Linked DNA regions of Homo sapiens. The protein of the gene in region 2 interacts with the protein of the main gene of each other region in a biochemical or structural test. Each region holds a gene or a part of one and is shown on either strand. Other genes may lie near its edges.

Region 1 (3,746 bases), on a different chromosome or scaffold from region 2:
CCTCCTGTGTGGCCGGTACCTACAGCCACTGGATGTGGTTCTTGGACTTCTTGGCAATGAGCTGGATGCCCTCAAGGACGTTGGTGATGTCATAGATGCGCCGCTTCTGCACCTTCAGCACCTCGGCAGCCCAGTTCAGGTCGACGACACCGTCAGCCGAGTGGCTCAGCAGCTCCAGGAAGCGCTTGGTGGTCAGATTCAGTGAGGTCTCATAGCGTGACTTCTCCCCCGGGGATTTCACACCTGTGGGGGTGTGGTCAGGCAAGACAGGGCCCTTCAGCATCCACCCCCACCTCCAGCCAGGCCTGCCACTCTGGCAGTGCAGGGCAGCAGGATGATGGGGGCTGGGGGACAGCCAGCTCCTTCCCCTTGGCGAGGCCAACCACAGCATTCTTCTTCTGGCTGGGGAACTCCTCACCCCTCAGGGCCTGGAGAAACCAAGCCAGGTGGCCACTCCAACTGCCCATCAGGGTCCTCAGAGGCCTGGCTCAAGCCCGACAAGCCAGACGTTAGCTTGCAAGCATGTTTGTCTGTTCACATCCCTAACCTGGGCCTGGTCACAGGGGGTCTGCCCAGCCCAAGCTCCATAGGTACCTTTTCCTGGATGGCGGCCTCTGCCCCGAGCTGGCCCACTGCTCTCGGCCAGGTACTGATGGTCAGTTTCCAGGTCCAGCCTCCGCTTCACCTGTGGCGAAAACGGGAGGATGCCCAGTAACCAGGAGTGAGGCCAGAAGAGACCTGGCTTAAGGCTGGGTGCCTCTGGGCTACCCTCGCCTCAGTTTCTCTAGCAGGATGCCTGAGTGTGTGACTGAGGGAGATCAGAGGGGACATAGCCTGAGAGTCACAGTCCTACCACACAGGACATTCCATTTTCACCACTTCTCTGGGGTCTAGCGGTGGATTTAAAACACATCCGCAAACTTTCTGATCCTTCTCCTTCAAAAGATATAGCCTAATTCTCCCCTTATGAGCCAGACCTGGTAACTTGCTTCTGGGGATGAATGAATGGAATGTGGTGGAAGGGATGGCCTGTCACTTTTGAGACTGGGTCAGAGGCGCTGGAGCTTCCTCCTTGCTCTGTATTGGGTCACTTACTCTGCCATATCATATGGGCACTCAAGTAGCCCTAATGATGGGCAAGAAACCATGGCCTCCTCCCAACAGCAACACTTAGTCACAACTTCTGTTAGCAGCCAGAACCCAAACACTGGCTGAATCTCCAGAGACCCCAAGCCAGAGCTGGATAAGTCTTCCCTGAATTCCTGACCCACAAAAACTATATAATAAATGTTTGTTGTTTTAAGGCACTATTTTTTTTTCTTTTTTAGACAGGGTATCGCTCTGTTGACTATGCTGGAGTGCAGTGGTATGATCACAACTCTCTGCAGCCTAGACTTCCTGGGCTCAAGCAATCCTCCCACCTCAGCCTTCCAAACAGCTGGGACCACAGGCGCATCCCTCCAAGACCAGCTAACTTTTCTATTTCTCGTAGAGATGGGGTCTCCCTATGTTGCCCAGACTGGTCTCAAACTCCTAGGCTCAAGCAATTCTCCCATCTCAGCCTTCACTGTAGTCGTGCTGGGACTAGTCAGCCACCATGCCCAGCTAAGCCACTGATTACATAGGTCCCTTGGCTAAATCACCTTCTCTCTGGTTTTTGACTAATCTATACGCATGGTAGCAGCTGGTGCTCATCAAGTTCCTTGCATCCATTAGTTCATTCCATTCAACGGACTGGCTGTATAAAAATGGCCCCATTTTCCAGATAAGGCAACTAAAGCCCAGGGAGGCCCAGGAAGTGGTAGAGTCAGGATTTGTACCCAAGACGGTCTGAGGAAGAACCCAAGCTCTAAGCACTCTGGCTTAGTTCAGACACTCCAGGATTGGGACTGTCCTGGAGGTCTCACAGGCTGCTCAAAAGTACCCGGACCAAAACCAGACTGATCTTCCCCTCCACCATCCACAGGGTTTCCTGAGCTAGAGTTCCTGACCTGTCACCCTCCTCACATGCAGCTACCAAGAACTGCTCATCACCACGGCGATCACCACCTTCCCAGTGGGCTGCTGAGCAGACTCCACACTGGTCTCCCTGCCTCTGCTGCAGCCAGTCCTCCTACAAACCTTACCATGCCGCCGCCCCTGCTTAAGGCCTTCCTCCAGCTCCCCATTGCCTTTGTACTCTCATCTGCCACTGCTTCTCTAGAGGAACCCGAGTCACGTTTTCCCAGAAATCTAGACTGCCCTTGCATCCCTCCCACCCTCCCCACTTCACGCCTGCTCCCTCTACCTCTGTGGGCAGAAACCTTACGCATCAGCTAGGAGGTGTCACCTCTTCTCCCTCTGAACTGCCTCAAACCCAACCTTTTGCCACATTCTGTCTCTCCCTACACATTTCTGCAGATGTATCTATCTCACCCTCAGAGGTGTCTGAATCACTTGAGAATCTATAGTGTCTGCCATGGAGCCTGGCATCAACAAATGTTTGCTGAATGAACCCCCCCCATGCTGATGAACCACTCCCTCTTGTGCACATTCACTGACTTTTGAAGGCACCCAGGGGAAAGAAGAGCTGTTGTGCTCTAAGCACTGTGTACTCAACTGCTTCCCCTGCAACCCTCCGGCCACCTTTTGGCAGGTGCTATGATGGCCTCCACCTGAGAGAGGCCACACAGTGAGAGGTGGACCCAGGACTTGCACCCTAGTTGGCTGGTACAGAGCCCACACTCATACCCGCCACGTGCCCCACCTCCCCAGAACCCAGCCAGAATGTATCCCCCTCCATACTCGCCCCTGGGGCCCAAACCCTAGCATGCTTCTGCCATCTGCACCCCTTGCCTTCTCCCTGGGATCCCCACCCTTGTCCACCCCTGAAGGCAGGTCAGTGCCACGCCCTAAAACAAAGGCTTGAGTGGATGCCATTTCTGCCACTTCTCCCTAGATAAACACTGGCAGAGGGGCCCCGAAACGCAGGGGTGAAGACATTCACTGCTGAAAAAATCTGGATGACTCGAACACCCATCCATGAAGGGGGTCACGAAAGCTGTGCTTTGTTTAGCCCCTTGAACACCACGCAGCTGTCAAGGACCGAGGCAGGTTGACAAGAATCCCCTCACACATACAGACAAGCAAAACACTGTCACAGGGCGATATATTTATATGATCCCTTTTGGATTAAAAAGCTCATGAAACTTTTCTCTGGTTCAGTTTATATTATTATAGAATACATTTCGGGGCAGCCTCTGGAAGGACTGTGGGAGACCAGTGCCATATCTGAATGGTGTGAATGATACAGGAAAAACTACAATTTTTAAAACTTTAAAAAACAAAAACTGTCACAACCACCACAAACAAAAATAGCCTTAGGGAAAAAAAGGAAAAAAATGAATAGGGCTGGGATCCTGCCGTCAACTTTCTAGTTTCTTAAGAGTTAAGTTTTTGGCCAGGCGCAGTGGCTCACGCCTGTAATCCTGGCACTTTGGGAGGCCGAGGCGGGCAGATCACTTGAGGTCAGGAGTTCAAGACCAGCCTGACCAATATGGTGAAACCTCATCTCTACCAAAAATACAAAAATTAGCCGGGTATGGTGGTGCACGTCTGTAGTCCCAGCTACTCGGGAGGCTGAGGCAGAAGAATCGCTTGAACCCAGGAGGTAGAGGTTGCGGTGAGCCGAGATGGCGCCACTGTACTCCAACCTAGGTGACAGAGCGAGACTTCATCTCAAAAAAAAAAAAAAAAAAAAGAGTTAA
Region 2 (3,746 bases):
CATGCCTGTAATCCCAGCACTTTGGGAGGCCAAGGCAGGCGGATCACAAGGTCAGGAGATCGAGACCACCCTGGCTAACACGGTGAAACCCCGTCTCTACTAAAAATACAAAAAATTAGCTGGGCGAGGTGGCGGGCACCTGTAGTCCCAGCTACTAGGGAGGCTGAGGCAGGAGAATGGCGTGAACCCAGGGGGCGGAGCCTGCAGTGAGCCAAGATTGTGCCACTGCACTCCAGCCTGGGCAACAGAGCAAGACTCCATCTCAAAACAAAAAAATAAATAAATAAATTTTTTTGGCCAGGTGCAGTGGCTCACGTCTGTAATCCCAGCACTTTGGGAGGCCGAGGTGGGCAGATCACACAGTCAGGAGATGAAGACCATCCTGGCTAACAAGGTGAAACCCTGTCTCTATTAAAAATAGAAAAACTTAGCCGGGCGTGGTGGCACACGCCTGTAGTCCCAGCTACTCGGGAGACTGAGGCAGAATTGCTTGAACCCAGGAGGTGGAGGTTGCAGTGAGCCAAGAATGTGCCACTGCACTCCAGCCTGGGAAACACAGACTGACTTTGTCTCAGAAAAAAAAAAAATTTTTTTTTTTTTCATTTTCTCTTTTTATGGCCAGTAAAATATTCCCACATAATTTTTAAATTTTTGTAGAGATCGGCTCTCGCTTTCTTGCTGAGGCTGGTCTCAAACTCCTGGGCTGAAGTGATCCTCCTATCTTGGCCTCCCAAAGTGCTGGGATTATATGCATCCAGCTCTGAGTCTTAAATCCTAAAAAAAAAAATTAACCTTTGCCGGGCATGGTGGCTCACGCTGGTAATCCCAGCACTTTAGGAGGCCGAGGCGGGCAGATCACGAGGTCAGGAGATCGAGACCATCCTGGGTAACACAGTGAAACCCTGTCTCTACTAAAAATAAAAAAAGATAGCTGGGTGTGGTGACAGGTGCCTGTAGTCCCAGCTACTCGGGAGGCTGAGGCAGGAGAATGGCGTGAACCCAGGAGGTGGAGTTTGCAGTGAGCCAAGATTGCGCCACTGCACTCCAGCCTGGGCAACAGAGTCAGACTCGGTCTCAAAAAAAAAAAAAATTAATCTTCTTCCTCTTATCTCCAAATCTATTAATTTTTCTTTATATTTGTAAGAAACTGGCTGGGTCAACTCACCTTCCTTCACTGTCTTTACAGTAGGGGCAGGTGCATGCTTCCCGCCGGGTCCTCCGACCGGCTTGGGGTTGGGCATCTGGGCTGTTTTCTCCTTCCTCTCCACCTGCTGTGTCATCATGTATTCCATCACCACCAGCCCCATGGAGACCAAGCTGAGCTCCATGATCACCTGAAATTAAGAGAGAAAAGGGTCAACATGTGACATGGGCAGGTTATCACTGGCATCTCAGTGATACCCTACAGTCACAACATCATTTCTTTTGAACTGACATCCTACATTCACAGTATCACAAGTTTTGAAGCCTTTTTATGTTTAGCCATTCCATTCACTGACACCTGAAGACTCACTGAAATCTCAAGAATCATCATTGAAAATACCAAGAGTGGCTGGGCGCAGTGGTTCACGCCTGTAATTCCATCACTTTGGGAGGCCGAGGTGGGCGGATCACCTGAGGTCAGGAGTTCAAGACCAGTCTGACCAATACGGAGAAATCCCGTCTCTACTAAAAATACAAAATTAGCTGGGAATGGTACGCATGCCTGTAATCCCAGCTCCTTGGAAGGCTGAGCCAGGAGAATTGCTTGAACCCGGGAGGCGGAGGTTGCAGTTAGCGAGACTGCACCATTGTACTCCAGCCTGGGTGACAGAGCAAGACTCTGTCTCAAAAAAAAAAAAAAAAAAAAAAAAGAAAGAAAATACCAAGAGCCAATAAATACGTAAAAATCTGATCAAATCTCATAGTTGTTTTTTTTTATTATTATACTTTAAGTTTTACGGTACATGTGCACAACGTGTAGGTTACATATGTATACATGTGCCATACTGATGTGCTGCACCCATTAACTCGTCATTTAGCATTAGGTATATCTCCTAATGCTATCCCTCCCCCGATCATAGTTTTTAAAATGCAACTCCACTTATAACGCATTTGTAATTTTTCACCTATCAGATTACCAAAAGTTGAAACCCTAATAACATACGGCATTGGTAAGGGTACAGGAAAACAGACCCTCCCTCTCTCTCTTCCTTCCCTCCCTCCCTCCTTCCCTCCTTCCTTCTCTCTCTCTCTCTTTTCTTTCCTTTCTTTTTTTGAGACAGAGTCTCGCTGGCTCTGGAGTACAGTGGCATTATCTGGGCTCACTGCAACCTCCATCTCCTGGGTTCAAGTGATTCTCCTGCCTTAGCCTCCCAAGTAGCTGCAACTACAGGTATATGCCACCATGACTGGCTAACTTTTTTGTATTTTTAGGAGAGATGGGGTTTCACCATGTTGGTCAGGCTGTCTCGAACTCCTGACCTTAGGTGATCCACCCGCCTCGGCCTTCGAAAGTGCTGGGATTACGGGTGGGCATGAGCCACCATGTCCAGCCGGAAAGAGACATTTTCATACACAAATAGTGATAAATTAATACAACTTTTTGAAGGCCAGTTTGAAAATATTTAAATGTACATCTAATTTGAACCAGCAATGCCCATATATTTACATGTGGTTCTGCCTGTAACCTCAGCACTTTGGAAGGCTGAGGCAGGAGAACTGCTTGAGATTAGGAGTTCAAGACCAGCCTGGGCAACATAGGGACACTCTGTCTATAAAATAAATAATAGGCTGGGCATGGTAGCTCACGCCTGTAATCCCAGCACTTTGGGAGGCCGAGGTGGTTGGATCACTTGAGGTCAGGAGTTCAATACCAGCCTGGCCAACATGGTAAAACCCCCATCTCTACTAAAAATACAAAAACAAAACAAAAAAAATCAGCTGGGTATGGTGGAGTACGCTTGTAATCCTAGCTATTCGGGAGGCTGAGACAGGAATTGCTTGAACCCAGGAGGCAGAGGTTGCAGTGAGCCGAGACTGTGCCACTGCACTCCAGCCTGGCCGACAGAGCGAGACTTCGTCGCCAAATAATAATAATAATTAGCTGGGCATGGTGGCATGCGCCTATGGTCCCAGCTACTCAGGAGGCTAAGGTGGGAGGAAGATTGCTTGAGCCAAGGTGTTTAAGGCTACAGTGAGCTATGATCACATCACTGCACACCAGCCTGGCCAACAGAACAAGATTCCAACTCAAAAAAATATATATAAATAAACAGTGTATGCTAAAATGCTTTAGACTCTCATCATGACTCAGTTGGTCACATTTGACATTTTCAAACACAGCTCTAGGCCACTGGTAAAAAGTGACAGATAATATTCTTTTTTTTTTTTTTTTGAGACTGAGTTACACTCTTGTTGCCCAGGCTGGAGTGCAATGGCACAATCTTGACTCATTGCAACCTCCGCCTCCTGGGTTCAAGCGATTTTCCTGCCTCAGCCTCCTGAGTAGCTGGGATTACAGGCACCCACCACCACCCCTGGCTACTTTTTGTATTTTGTTGTATTTTTTTAGTAGAGATGGGGTTTCACCATCTTCGACAGGCTGGTCTCGAACTCCTGACCTTGTGATCCGCCCGCCTTGGCCTCCCAAAGTGCTGATTACAGGCGTGAGTCACCGCACCCGGCTGATAATATTCTTCGCAAAAGTAATATCTTATAAAGTGGCAGATAATATTCTTCTCAAGACTTCTTTCCTTTTTTTTTTT

What was found. The genes of interacting proteins can lie anywhere in the genome.
Region 1: the proteins of SP1 (region 2) and E2F1 form a complex in vitro, tested with the Homo sapiens proteins (4 studies listed by BioGRID and IntAct).

What each region holds. Positions count from the first base shown.
Region 1 is NC_000020.11:33,679,732-33,683,477, forward strand, and holds part of E2F1 (transcription factor E2F1), read right to left. Parts: intron 686-3,746; coding exon 595-685; intron 244-594; coding exon 24-243; intron 1-23. UniProt on the Homo sapiens protein: Transcription activator that binds DNA cooperatively with DP proteins through the E2 recognition site, 5'-TTTC[CG]CGC-3' found in the promoter region of a number of genes whose products are involved in cell cycle regulation or in DNA replication.
Region 2 is NC_000012.12:53,404,173-53,407,918, reverse strand, and holds part of SP1 (transcription factor Sp1), read right to left. Parts: intron 1,335-3,746; coding exon 1,166-1,334; intron 1-1,165. UniProt on the Homo sapiens protein: Transcription factor that can activate or repress transcription in response to physiological and pathological stimuli.